4 linked regions of the Homo sapiens genome follow. The protein of the gene in region 1 purifies or fractionates together with the protein of each later gene. This does not show direct contact. Each region holds a gene or a part of one and is shown in the gene's direction. Other genes may lie near its edges.

Evidence for each region.
Region 2: the proteins of ZNF317 (region 1) and CPNE2 purify together in Homo sapiens (affinity purification with mass spectrometry; one large-scale study listed by BioGRID and IntAct). This does not show direct contact.
Region 3: the proteins of ZNF317 (region 1) and GBP1 purify together in Homo sapiens (affinity purification with mass spectrometry; one large-scale study listed by BioGRID and IntAct). This does not show direct contact.
Region 4: the proteins of ZNF317 (region 1) and MRPS18A purify together in Homo sapiens (affinity purification with mass spectrometry; 2 studies listed by BioGRID and IntAct, with this or other methods). This does not show direct contact.

What each region holds. Positions count from the first base shown.
Region 1 is NC_000019.10:9,153,894-9,157,479, forward strand, and holds part of ZNF317 (zinc finger protein 317), read left to right. Parts: intron 1-2,031; 5' UTR 2,032-2,123; coding exon 2,124-2,148; intron 2,149-2,718; coding exon 2,719-2,855; exon of another isoform or gene 2,856-3,374; coding exon 3,375-3,501; intron 3,502-3,586. UniProt on the Homo sapiens protein: May function as a transcription factor. May play an important role in erythroid maturation and lymphoid proliferation.
Region 2 is NC_000016.10:57,116,497-57,120,082, forward strand, and holds part of CPNE2 (copine-2), read left to right. Parts: intron 1-999; coding exon 1,000-1,071; intron 1,072-2,698; coding exon 2,699-2,782; intron 2,783-3,064; coding exon 3,065-3,154; intron 3,155-3,586.
Region 3 is NC_000001.11:89,058,651-89,062,236, reverse strand, and holds part of GBP1 (guanylate-binding protein 1), read left to right. Parts: intron 1-1,912; coding exon 1,913-2,040; intron 2,041-2,810; coding exon 2,811-2,920; intron 2,921-3,193; coding exon 3,194-3,396; intron 3,397-3,586.
Region 4 is NC_000006.12:43,670,792-43,674,377, reverse strand, and holds the end of MRPS18A (large ribosomal subunit protein mL66 isoform 1 precursor), read left to right. Parts: intron 1-1,777; exon of another isoform or gene 1,778-2,471; coding exon 2,472-2,616; 3' UTR 2,617-3,176; downstream 3,177-3,586. Other genes in the region: RSPH9 (radial spoke head protein 9 homolog), read right to left, coding at 3,391-3,586.

The sequences.
Region 1 (3,586 bases):
TGGTGAATGTAGACTGCTCCTAAGTTTTTGCTCGGAAGGGGGCACTAAGGGGAGCCAGGGCAGGCATTGGTTTCAAGATGGGATAGACCTGAGCATGTGTCCATGCATAGGAAATTGTCTAGCAGGGCGAGAAATGAGGCTGAAAGTAAAGGAGAGCCAGGTAGTGCGAGGGTCCAGAGACGGGGATGGGCCTGGAGCAGATTTGAAAGGATTGCCTTGAGAAGGGAGGGCAGACATCTCTTTGTCATAGAAGGAAAGGAGGAGGTCATAGATCAGTTGTGAGAAGACTGTTTAAATAACTAGAAGCAAGAAGGTAAGAAAGCCTCATTTTTTTTCTTTCTTTTAAGCAGGGTTTAATATATGTTCAAGAAAATGCATAGGTCTTACTTAGGTGATCAGTTTGAATTTTTGACAATTGTGTACACTGTACATCTGAAAATAGGTAAGTTTCTATCATCCTAGAAAGTTCCCTTTGCTTCTTTCAGTCTATCCCTGTCTTATCCTCCATTGAAGAAACCCCCTTTTTTTTTTCAATTCTATCAACTTAATTACGTTTTGCCTATTCATGGACATTATATTGTTGGAATCAGAGCGTTTCTTGTGTGTCCAGTTTCTTTTGGCCAGCATCGTAGGGATTTCTCCATGTAGTGTGTCTGCATAGTTTCTTTTTATTGCTGAGTAGTATTCCATTCTGTAAACATTGCAATTTGTATATCCATTCTCTGGTTGATAGATGTTTAGATTGTTTACAGTATTTGGCTATTAGGAATCAGACTACTACAGACATTTTTGTACGAGTCTTTGTGGATATAAATTGTTTACAGTTTCTCTTATATAAATATCTAGGAGCAGAATTGTTGGATCAGATAGTCAGTGTGCTTGTTAAAAACTGCCAAAGTGTTTTCCAAAGTAGTTGAACTATTTCACACTCCTACCATCAGGATATGAGAGGTGCCAGTGTGCCCCAAACTCAGCAGCATTTAGTATTGGTAGTCTTTTTTATTTTGGCTGTTCTAGTTTTAATTTGCATTTCTCTAATGACTATGATATTCAACACCATTCGATGTGATTCTTACTGGTTTTGTGAAATGTCTGTTTATTAATTAAAGTCTTTTACCCTTTTTGTTGGGTTGATTTTCTTTCTTTCTTTCTGTTTTGAAGGAGTTCTTTTTATTTTTTCCAATAAGCCTTTTGCACTCCTATCTAGGAGTTCTTTAATCTGAATACGAATTCTTTTTCAGGTGTATGCATTGCAGATATTTTTTTCCCAATCCGTGGTTCACTGTTCATTTTCCTTTTTTCTTTTTCTTTTTTTGTTTTTAGAGACAGAATCTTACTCTATTGCCCAGGCTGGAGTGCATGATGGTAGCTCACTGCAGCTGTTCTCTATGAATTTTTAAGTTTCTGATTCATCTCAAAAGATGTTTAAATTCAAATTCAGTGAGTGGAGGAGGTGGCAGAAGCATAGGTGGCCGCGAATCTCTAAAGTGAGAGTTGATGTGAGAAGGTTGCACAGGAGACTTTGCCCAGAGAGCAGATTTCCAAATCATTGCCTGTGAGGTGAGGCTGATTCTAGTGATGATGCAGTCCAGGCCATGGCCCAAGGGTGTATATGTTGGTGTGGAGTGTGGGTGCAAAGGGCATTGGAGTTTGGAACTCATGGTTGATCCTGGGTGGACCATCTTCATGGATAGAGCCATCCTAAATGATCGCAGGCCTCGAAGGTGAAGGAAGAGCAGAAGTCTAGGACCAGAGTGTTTAATGAGTGAGGGGGTTTAACAGAGTTGTACTTGGTGGAAAATCACTTAGGAAGAGTAATTCTGAACCCACTTATAGCAGATCAGGGGCTGTCCCCCCACCACATCACCACATTGCTGAGAGAGTTTACCTAAGTAAGATAAAAGTCCAGGATCAGGCAGATCTTGCTGCTCAAAAGAGGAAATGCCAAAAAACAAAACTCAGAGTTTTCTTTGGTGAGCAGGAGAGACAGATAGCCTTTCACTACTCCCGATGTTCTTTCATTTGCTACAGATGCCAGCTTGGAGAGTCACGTGAGAGCAAGAGAGTAGCTTTCTGGTTGTCCTGGTGCCCTGCTCAGGCAAACTGACTGCCATTCTCTGAGGATGGCAGCTCTGTCCCCCACATTTGGTAAGTTCTTGGGTCAGTGCGTGCCCTGAGAAAGTGAGTGCAAGTGGCCCCTGCCACTTGATGGGGTGAAAGATACGTACACCATAGAGGGCTGCTGGGAGAGGATGGGCAAGTGGAAAAGGGGTGGGAACAGAGCCCCAGCAGCCACCCCAGTGACTGTGTCTGCTGAGGGTCTTGGTGGGTCTGGGAGCAGGCCAGTGTCCTTATCATTCATGCATGAAGAGGGTGCAGGTAATGGGTAACCCTGAGTTATCTCATTTATTATTTTGATCACTTTCAGCAAGGTCACAACTCTAGCTCTCAGAACTTGCATTTCTTCACTCCTAGGTTGGAACTATGTCACTTCTTATGAGTATGTAGCCCACCACCCTCTTTATGTTTTTGGTGGAACAGGGCTGCTCTGACTTGTTATGAAACTGATGTGTGCAAGAGAGGTGGGGGGAGGAAGAGAGAGAGAGGATTGAGGATGTGAACACTCAGAATCAGTGTGGAGCAGTTTCCTGGTTTACAAGTGTTGTATTATGAGACAGGGCAGGCTCTGATTCTCATGAACCCTGTTTTCTCCTCCAGCCACGTCCACCCAGGATTCCACCTGTCTCCAGGACTCAGAATTTCCTGTTTCTTCAAAAGACCATTCCTGTCCCCAGAATTTGGACCTGTTCGTGTGCAGTGGTCTGGAGCCTCACACACCCAGTGTTGGTTCCCAGGTGCACTAAGATCTCTGGGTCCCTAGAGCAGGAGAGGCACTTCCTGGAAGACCCCACCAGTGCATGCTGGAATTCTTGCAGAGCTTCATCTCAGCCAGTGGATGCCAGAACAGGGCCCAAGAGAGAGCCAAGGAATATTGGGGCTGTCCTGGTGTTGGGGAAGTTAGGGGAAGTGATTTATGTAGCATCTGTTTCCCTCATGCTTGCAAAATCTCAGGCCCTTGCTCAGCCCCAGAGACGGGGGGAAATAAAGGGCAAAGCTCTCGGAGTGGGCTAGAACTGGAGGGAGATTAGTCCCTTGTCAGGGTTGCATCTGAAGTGACGGCACAGGACAAGATGGCCTCAATGGGGAGAGAGGATGTCTGAGGACTGATGCCTGGAGGAAATGTTGAGCCCCGTAGCAGGCCATCTGGAAATCCTGTGTTGGGTCTCTCATGCCCGGTCTTCAACCTCAGCCATCTTACCATGAACATCGTTAGGCTGGTTCCTCGCTGACCCCAAGTTTGTGTGGCGTTCCAGGAATCGGTGACTTTCCAAGATGTCGCTGTGGACTTTACCGAGAAGGAGTGGCCCTTGCTGGATTCTTCTCAGAGAAAACTGTACAAAGATGTAATGCTGGAGAACTACAGCAACCTCACTTCACTGGGTAAGGCCAGTGCCATTTCTCCACTTATTCATCCATGAATTAGATGTTTTTGTTTGAGTATGTTCTGTGACCCAGGAACTATGCA
Region 2 (3,586 bases), on another chromosome or scaffold:
GGTTATGATCATGCTACTGCCCTCCAGCCTGGGCAAGAGAGTGAAACCCCATCTCTGAATGAATGAATGAATGAATGCCTTCACAAGGCAGCTTCCACCTAGAAGCCATCTCAGACAGACCCCACTCACCCGGGTATGCCATCACCCCAGCATTTCTGGCAGTTCCACTCTAGGCCTCCATCCCGTCCCCTGGGAAATGGGGGTGATAATAGGACCTACCCTATAGGGTTGTTGAGCAAGTCCCAGTGGGAGGACGGCAGGGGAGAACGGGCAACATGGCTGGCCTCTGTCTGTGGGTCCAGAGGGCCAGATGCCTTGCGCTGGGTGAGGCCATCCTAGAGGCAGGAGAGGAGAGGAGGCCCCAGCGAAAGGCCCCAGCCCACTTGTGTTGCTGTGGGCAGCAGGGGAGGGAGAGAGGCCTACAGGGGGCCTCAGCAGTCTCGAAGTCGCCCAGCTAGGCCATCACTGGCTGGGCTGGGGTCAGGGAACCATAGCTGATGGGGAATGCATGGAGGACAGATGACCAATGTGAACTGATGGGACTCAGTTTCTCCCCTGGGCCTCAGTTTCCCTAGCTGTACAATGAAGTGGCTGTGATGCTGACACCTTGGTGTTCTGAGGAAGCTGTGCTCTCTGTGGCTGCCGCAGGGGCAGGAGAAGGCCGGTCATGCTGCTCTCTGGGCCAGAACCTCTCCCCGGGACTCAAGACCACCCCCGGTGTCTGGTCCTTGCTTCATCTCTGCCCACCACCCCATGGGCCCTGCGGATTTGCGTAGATCCGCTTCCTGACTCCTCATCTCCAGATGGGTTATTTTCCGCATTTTCCAGAAGATGGAAACTGAGGTGTGGGGAAGACAAGAGATTTGTCCAAGGTCACCTGGAACTGCCCTTCCCTTCCCCCTCCTAGCCCTGGAGGATTGCTCCTGGGGCACCCTGTGCCATCCTGCCTGGCAGGAGGCTGGGGGAGTCTGAGGAGCCCCTCATGTCCCGGCCTTACAGATCGCTGCCCAGGAGCTGTCCGACAACCGCGTCATCACACTAAGCCTGGCGGGCAGGAGGCTGGACAAGAAGGTAAGGCGGGCAGAGGAAGGGCTCCCATTGGGAACAGTAGCCCCCACCAGCCCCAGGGCTGTGTGGCCTCATTCCGGGACCTCGGGCCACCACCTCCATCACATTCTAGGGACTGGTCCAGCACGGGGCCCTCCTGGCCACTCCAGATTAGGACTCCTTCACCTCTGAGGTAGTGAGTGTTCCATCCCTTAGGGGTATTCAAAACACACCTGGAAACCTGCTCATTGGGGCATCCCCATCTCACTTAGTGTAAGTACATTCCAAGGTCCTTACCCAATGGGGCCCTGCCTGATGTGTCCCCAGTGCCCCGACTCTCCGACCTCACCCCTCCTCCCCGCACCTCACTCTGCTTCAGCCAAACCTAGCCCCTTGTCCGTGAATTAAACGAGGCACTCTCCTCCCTCAGGAGCTTTGCACTTGCTGTTCCCTCTGCCTGGGATGCTCTCTTCCTTGAATTTTCTCACGGCACCCTCTCACCTCCATCAAGCCTTTGCTCCCACATCACCTCCTCAACGAGGCCTTCCCTGAAATTGGTCTTCAATTTCCCACCCCCTCCTTCTCGTCTCCTTAACACTATTACTGTCTAGCATACTTTCTTTCTTTTTTTTTTTTTTTTGAGACAGAGTCCTGCTCTGTTGCCCAGGCTGGAGTACAGTGGTGTCATCTCAGCTCACTGCAAGCTCCGCCTCCTGAGTTCATGCCATTCTCCTGCCTCAGCCTCCCGAGTAGCTGGGACTACAGGCGCCTGCCACCACGCCCAGCTAATTTTTTTTTTTTTTGTACTTTTAGTAGAGACGGGGTTTCACTATGATAGCCAGGATGGTCTCGATCTCCTGACCTTGTGATCCGCCTACCTCGGCCTCCCAAAGTGCTGGGATTACAGGCTTGAGCCACCATGCCTGGCCCATACCTTCTTTACTTATTTTCTGTCTCCCTAACTTGAATATAACCTCTTTAAAGTAACAGTTGCCAGGTGCAGCGGCTCACACCTGTAATCCCAGCTACTTGGGAAGCTGAAGCAGGAGGATCACTTGAGGCCAGGATTTTGAGACCAGCCTGGGCAATATAGTGAGACCCCATAGATGGATGGATGGATGGATGGATGGATGGATGGATGGATGGATAGATAGATAGATAGATAGAGTGAGTCACATACAAAAAGTGGCACTTTTTAAACCTTAAATGATTTTTTAAAGGCCATGATATTCCTTATGTCATGTGCAGGATAGTTTCAGTTTTTCACATTCCCAATAAAATAAACTGAAATGACACCCTGCTGGGAGCCTCACCCTACCTTGGGAATAGTCACCCTCTTGAAGTCCTGGCCCATCTAAAATGCCGGAGTTCTGACTCACACAGGCTCTGAGTCTTGGAGGGTCTCTGAGCACAAGCTCTGACAGCCTCAGGGTGGGGGGTTTCTGCTGGGGGACCTGGTTGATCCCAGGGGGCTGCAGCTGCCCTGGGCCTCTTGCTGAGCCTTGCAGAGTCTGAGGGGAGGGGGCCAGGCTGGCTCTGCCCACAGCTCCTATCCTGACACCCGGCTGGGGAGGCAGCAGGGCCACACCCCCATCTGCCTGAACCTAGCAGGGCTGTACCTCTCTCACCCGCATCCTCCCACTTCTCCCAGGACCTCTTTGGGAAGTCAGACCCCTTTCTGGAGTTTTATAAGCCAGGAGACGATGGCAAGTGGATGCTGGTCCACAGGACTGAGGTGGGTACGTGGGGGCCCAGGGATCTCTAAGCAGTGGGCCTGCAGTCCAGCCCCTCCACAGCTCTGAAAAAGGGAGGTGCGGTCACAGCCGCTCAGTGTGCAGGAAAACCCACAGTGGCACCTGAGGGATATGCTTCCTCCCAGCCACAGGGACGCTCACTTCTGTCTCTGGAAGTGTGGCTGTGGGTCTGCATTTTGTCACCCTGTCCCCATTGGGCTGACCCAACCCCAGAGCACTGCTGCCCAGGGCCTGAGCTCACAGCATCCCTCTCTGTCCCACAGGTGATCAAGTACACACTGGACCCTGTGTGGAAGCCATTCACAGTGCCCTTGGTGTCCCTGTGTGATGGGGACATGGAGAAGCCCATCCAGGTGAGGGGGCTCTGGGGACCCTGCTCCCCACCTTGCCAGCTCCAGCCTCCCAGTCTACCTGAGGCTCCCGGGGATGCCTTGTAGAAAGCTCTTTCTCATACAAGTGGAACGAACCCCCATCTTTGGAGGAGGGAGGACTGGAGACTGGGTCCTCATCCTGGATCTATCTGATGCCCTGAAGTACCCGGGCAGGGCCCCCACCTTTGAGCCCCTCTCTAAAACTCTCTTGCCCTCCCCAGAGGGCTGCAGAGCTGCTAGCTAGGGAAACACCTTGGAAATTATCAAATTTGGCATGATGAGGACAGTGATTACCAGTCTCTCTAAAAGCTCTCAGTCCTCTGGCTGAGTGCAGTGTCTCATGCCTGTAATCCCAGCACTTTGGGAGGCTGAGGCAGGTGGGTCACTGGAGGTCAGGAGTTCAAGACCAGCCTG
Region 3 (3,586 bases), on another chromosome or scaffold:
TAAATAATGCTAATAGGAACATGGGTGTCTGAATATCTGTTCAAGTCCCTGCTTTCACTTCTTTTGGGAATATACCCAGAAGGGGAATTGCTGGCTCATGCAGTCATTGCATGTTAACTTTTTTTAAGAAATCACTATACCATTTTCCACAGTGACTGTACCGTTTTACATTCTCAACAGAAATGCACAAGGGTTCTAATTTCTCTACATCCTCACCAACATTTTTTATTTTCAGTGGTTTTTTTTTTTTATAGTGGCCATACGAATGGAAGTTAAGTAGTATCTCGTTGTGGTTTTGATTTTGATTTCCGTAATGACTAGTGATGTTGAGCATCTTTTCACGTGCTTATTGGCCACTTGTATATCTTCTTTGGGAGAATGTCTATTCAAGTCCATTGTTCATTTATTAATCTGGTTGTTTATTTCTGTTGCTTTGTAAATTTTTTTATATTTTCTAGATATCAATCCCTTATCATATACATGTTTAGAAACCATTTTCTTACATTCCGTGTGTTGCCTTTTTTAACTCTGTTGATAGTGTCCGTTAATACACAAAAGTTTTAAATTTTGCTGAAGTCCCACTAATCTATTTTTTCTTTTATTGTCTATAGTTTTGGTTTCTTATTCAAAAAATAATTTCCAAATCCAATATTATAAAACTTTTACCCTTTATTTTCTTCTACAACTTTTATAGTTTCAACTCTAATGTTTGGTTCTTTGATCCATTTTGAGTTCATATTTGTAAGTTATAAGGTAATAGCCCAACTTTTTAAGGAGATATATCATTTCCTCAACATCATTTGTTAAAGAGACTCTCCTTTCTTCATTAAATGATCTTGACACCCATACTGGAAATCATTTGACCATATATATCAGAGTTTATTCATGGGCTGTCTTTTCTATTCTATTGGTTTATATGTCAGTCTTTATACCAGTACCACACATGGTTTTGTAATACGTTTCACAACTCAGAAACTGTGAGACTCCAACTTTGCTCTTCCTTTTTATTTTTATAATTAGGGGATCTCTGGAAATTTCATATGAAATTTATGGTGGATTTTTCTATTTATACAAAGTAATTGGAATGTTGGTAGGGATTATATCAAACCTGTACATCACTTTGGGTAGTAGTGACATCTTAAGAATATTAAGTCTTCCAATCCATAAACACAGGATGTCTTTCTAATAACTTATGTCATCTATAATTTCTTTAAAGGGTGTTTGAAGTTTTCACTCTACAAGTCTTCCACCTGCTTGGTTAAGCTGATTCCTAAGTAGTTTATTCTTTTGATGCTGTTAAATTGGATTGTTTCCAAAATTTCCTTTTCTATTTTTTACACTAGCAACTGATTTCTCCATATTGACTTTGCATGCTGCAACTTTGATGAATTGTTTTAATAGTTCTAATAGTTTTTTGTGGGATAGTTAATGTTTTCTACAAATTAGATACTATCATCAGCAGACAGAGATAATTTTACTTTTTCATTACCAATTAGGATGCCTCCTTTATGCTTCTCTTGTCTAATTACTCTGGATAGGACTTGCAGTGTTCTGTGGAATGCAATTGACAAAAGTAGGCATCCTTTTCTTGTTCATGATGTTATAGGAAAAGCTATGACGTTTCATCATTAAATGTGAAGTTAGCTGTGGGTTTTTAATACATGGCATTTATTATGTTGAGGTGCTGTCTTTCTATTTCTACTTTGTTGATTATTTTTATCATGAAAGCCTCCTGAATGTTTCCATGCATTGGATATTCAAATTTCCTATTTCTTTGATTGTAAGTACGTAAGGTGAATACTGATTGTTGTTTCAGTTCTCTCTCTTAACCTTAAATATACTACTTTTTCCTTCAATTGCCAGAACTGCCTGTTACTAAATCCCCATCGCTGGTCTCCTCTCTCCCTTGCAGGCTTCTCTCTGGGCTCCACGGTGCAGTCTCACACTAAAGGAATCTGGATGTGGTGTGTGCCCCACCCCAAGAAGCCAGGCCACATCCTAGTTCTGCTGGACACCGAGGGTCTGGGAGATGTAGAGAAGGTGAGACTCAAGGATCCAGTTGTGGAGTAAGCCCCTCCTCTCTGAATATTTTATGCAGCGGTTAATTGTTTATTAACTATTAACTACAGGCTGTAATATGTGTGGGTTAACACAGATGCATAAAGGGAGCACAAATAATCCCAGTGTCATAAGTCTTATCCTGCACAGAACTTTAGTTAAGAATTTGGGTGCTAAAGCCATGTGACTTTGTATTTAAATTTAAATTCTGTCACTAATTCAGTAGCCTGAGAAAATTGACTTATTTTCGCCTCAGCATTCTAATCTTTAAAATGTATGGAAAAGACCTATGTTGGCCATATAGTATTATTTTGAATATTTAATAAGATAATACATTACAGGTGTATATTAATTATTCAATAAAATAGCAACTAATAGTACCAATCTTATATGTGAATTCTGTTATTGAAAAAAAGAAGAGAAAATTTTAAATTTACATTGTACTCAGGCCTTAAAATGCCCACCAACCTTGAATTTTAATTTTACAATTATCTGTTGATGATCATTAGAAGACCTAGTAAGAATCATGGTAACCCAAAAACACTCGTCGAAAAACTACCCAAAAGCCACATCCTACTGAGAATAATTTTTGTATTTGTCTTCCTTTAATAGGTCATTAGTGTTAAAAAAAAAAAAAAAAAAGAAAAGAAAAAAAAACCCTCTAACATATGAACATAGTTTTACTACTGTTACTCTGAAAAGTGCTGCGATGATGAAACTTGCTCCTGACTCCAGTGTGTCTTGACTTCCAGGGTGACAACCAGAATGACTCCTGGATCTTCGCCCTGGCCGTCCTCCTGAGCAGCACCTTCGTGTACAATAGCATAGGAACCATCAACCAGCAGGCTATGGACCAACTGTAGTATCCTTTTGTGACCCAGAACAGCACCAAGGTCAGAGGGGACACCTGTATTCATACACCAGCTGCCTGACTGTGAATCCTGATGAATCAAGCTCAAAAGGAGAAAACAAAAAATAATGCAAGTACAGAGGAGAGATCCCATGTATCCACTTTAGAACTGACACTGACACTTAGGTTAGGAGCAAAGGAAAATGGAAGGTTTGGGTATGTGTTGAACTAACATGGGATGAGGTCCCTGTTCATTTTGTCACATTTCCTTAGTTAGCTACTCAGCTATGTGACAGAGCTGACACATAGAATCCGATCAAAATCCTCACCTGATGAGAATGAGAATGAGGTTGAGGATTCAGCTGACTTTGTGAGCTTCTTCCCAGACTTTGTGTGGACACTGAGAGATTTCTCCCTGGACTTGGAAGCAGATGGACAACCCCTCACACCAGATGAGTACCTGACATACTCCCTGAAGCTGAAGAAAGGTAACAGAGAGCTTCAACTGATAAATGAGGATGAGAAAACACAAGAAATTATCATTTTTCAGTTTACTATTGCTAGTTTTCCAGCATTTGCAGTTTTCTATGTCTTCAGCTGGCTATTCCTAGAAATTAATACTTGCTGAATATCCAAATTAATAGATGTTATTTTAAATTACATTTGTCATTGTTCTAG
Region 4 (3,586 bases), on another chromosome or scaffold:
GTTGGTGCGGAAGTAATTGCAGTTTTTGTCCTTTTTTAATAGAATTGCTCTCTGTAAGGTATCAAAGATGACTGACGCAAAGCAAACACCTCAGCCCCCAGCAGACCTCCTAGGCTGATCCCCACCAGAACTCAGGCATGGAGGGTAGGGGGTGTGGGATGTGGGAATGCAGGGCTTCTTCCTGGTACCCTGCCTCTCTGTCCCTGGGGGCTAAGTCAGAGCTGGACCTTTACCAACACCATGCCAGCACCCTGGCTGTGTGCCCATCTCTACCTGTGCCCCCCACATTGCTAGCTCAGCCATCTGCCAGCAGCTCTTGGGGAGCAGGACATGCTAACCTCTTCCTATGTCCCCTAACTATGCTATGGACCATTTGGGGGTTGAGCCCACCCCCTCTGGCTTTTTAAGAGACAGCAGCAGGCCTGAGGACACAATCCATCCTGCCTCAGGCCTTTGAAGCTAGGCCAGGCGCCCTCCCATACATCCGGCATCCTTTAACGTGACACAGGATTGATGATGTGTGGGGGCTAGTCGGTTGCAAAAGGCCACGCTGAGCGGGAGGGGGAGTTCAGGCTACGAAGGAAATGGATTCCCTTGCAGGGGAGTCTCGTTTAATGCTGCCATGCATGGGCCCAGGCTCCGCTGGGGCCTGGCGGAGCCATGCTTTGTCTGCTGCTGTGTCGCTCCTCCTGCTGCCCCTTCAGGAGAGGTAGGAAGGGGCTGGTTTAGGAAAGAGACTTGGTTCTTGCTAGAGCTGGGGTGTTCCCAAAGAGCTGGCTGGAGGCCACCCGGCCCACCCCCTGCCAGCTGGCCGCTCCGTGTGGCGCAGGCATCAGGCCCAAGGCCAGCTAAAGCCCAGCTTCCCTCTCCAAGGCATGGGAGAAAGAACAGCTTTAGGGCAGTAGCTCTGGAGAACCTTTCCAGCTTTTCCTCTGCATCCCCAAATCTCAATGAGCACCCTTCTGGGGAGCCTGCTCCCATACCCCATCTCTTCATGTACCCCTCTGAAGCCTGGGAGAGGCCAGCAAAGGGGCCATCCCTGGTCCCCTCCCTTTACCTTACTCTTCTGTCACCTAGAACCACCGACCATAGAAAAAGCAGTCCCCTCACACCTGTAATCCCAGCAATTTGGGAGGCCGAGGCGGGCGGATCACTTGAGGTCAGGAGTTCAAGACCAGCCTGGCCAACATGAGGAAACCACGTCTCTACTAAAAATACAAAAATTAGCCATGCATTGTGGCGGGTGCCTGTAATCCAAGCTACTCCAGAGGCTGAGGCAGGAGAATTGCTTAAACCCAGGAGGCGGAAGTTGCAGTGAGCCGAGATCGCGCCACTGCACTCCAGCTTGGGCAACAGAGCAAGACTTCGCCTCAAAAAAAAAAAAAAAAAAAGCAGTCCCTATAACTAGCCTCCTTCACAGTCATCATCCTGGCCAGGGCAGTGACAATTCCAGGAGACACATGGAAGGCCCTCCCATCCCTGCCCAGCACACACTTGGAGTGCAGGCCAGCAACTCCCGCAGCTTCTGTCAACACAGGGCTGGCAGCAGAAGACCAAGGTCCAGCGGAGCTCAGTTGAACTGCATAAATCAGCAATCATTTTTTCACTTCTTTTATCTAAGAGTTTTTAGCTAAGGTTATTGAGTTTTTAAATAAAAAAGCTTTTTCTTTGATGGTCTCTAGAGACAGCTGGGTTGAGCCCCAACCTAGAATGGAGGCAGGGGAGGATTCCTGGCCTTTGTCATGGCTGAGCTTTCAGAATGAAGGATGGGCCTTTCTGGACAGGATCCAAGTTTTATTCTGGACAGAGTAAAACCCAATCCTAGCCGGCATGAGCCACTTTTCTGGGAACTATCAGGGCCCTGGCCATCCCCAAAGGAGGCCAAAGGTCCATGGGCGGCAGCCATCTTTCCCCACCCCCCTCCTATTTACAGGAACCTTCCTAGGCTAGGGCTGCGCCCACGGGCCCTTACCCCTTGATTCCCATCACAGGTTGGGTGAGGGGCAGGGGTCTTATACCAGTTATAGTACCCTGGGGAGTTCCCTGAAGGTTGGGGTAGCTGAGTGAGCCAAATGGGGAAGAGCAATGGGTTCCTCCAGAGCCTTACATCAGCTCTTCTCGCCCCATGGCTGAGGCCAGAGAGGAATGATCTGCTCTTCAGGCAGCCTCTTCGCCACCTTTTCCTCAGCAAACACACACCAACATTGACATTTACAAAGATCAAGGGAGCTTGTGGCCCTGGGCTGCCTGAACCTGGCCACACAGGCTTGCGGCAGCAAGAGCCCAGCCCATCTGTTTACAGGACGCTCAGCAGTTACTCCCAGGAAAATCCCTGCACTTCAGGAAAGGGAAACTGGTGAAAGGATTTGCTTGCCCAACCGTGGCCTGGCCTGAGGAGGTAGTGCTCCACTCTCCCACGTCCAGCTTGGGCCCCCAGCCCTCACAGGCACCTCTTTGTTCTCCCTCCACAGGTACCTGACGCGCTGGGCTCCTGGCTCCGTCAAGCCCATCTACAAAAAAGGCCCCCGCTGGAACAGGGTGCGCATGCCCGTGGGGTCACCCCTTCTGAGGGACAATGTCTGCTACTCAAGAACACCTTGGAAGCTGTATCACTGACAGAGAGCAGTGCTTCCAGAGTTCCTCCTGCACCTGTGCTGGGGAGTAGGAGGCCCACTCACAAGCCCTTGGCCACAACTATACTCCTGTCCCACCCCACCACGATGGCCTGGTCCCTCCAACATGCATGGACAGGGGACAGTGGGACTAACTTCAGTACCCTTGGCCTGCACAGTAGCAATGCTGGGAGCTAGAGGCAGGCAGGGCAGTTGGGTCCCTTGCCAGCTGCTATGGGGCTTAGGCCATGCTCAGTGCTGGGGACAGGAGTTTTGCCCAACGCAGTGTCATAAACTGGGTTCATGGGCTTACCCATTGGGTGTGCGCTCACTGCTTGGGAAGTGCAGGGGGTCCTGGGCACATTGCCAGCTGGGTGCTGAGCATTGAGTCACTGATCTCTTGTGATGGGGCCAATGAGTCAATTGAATTCATGGGCCAAACAGGTCCCATCCTCTTCATGACAGCTGTGAGCTCCTTACTGTGGGAGAGCTGCAGGGAGCCAAGGTGGGCTGCCTGACACACTTGCCGCTCTCGTGTGAATCCAAGAAACTGCGTTCCTCAAAGGGGCCCTGGTTGTCACCTTCTCCCACAGCCATTTCCACCCATCGTTGTCTAGAATCTCTTTCATTAGCACATTCCAACCCCTCTGCCACTTGGTTTAGAAATGAGCTCCCTGGCTCAGTGGGCCTTTCAGAATCTGGAACCAGACGGAGGTGGAGTTAAGAAGATAGGACAGAACAGGCAGGCCAAGTTCACTGAAGCTTAAGAAAATCATGTTTAGACTCTGTTTAAAAACATCCAGGCTGGCTCCCATTCTATAGCATGAAGGGCAAGTCCATGTTCTTCTCGCCAGTGCCCACGTAGACGTAGCCATAGTTCTTGGTGCGGGGAGCATGGTAGAAGGTGAGGCCCGGCCAGAGCAGGCTGCGCAGCACCACCAGGGCATTGCCCCTCTCCATCTGGATGCTCCAGG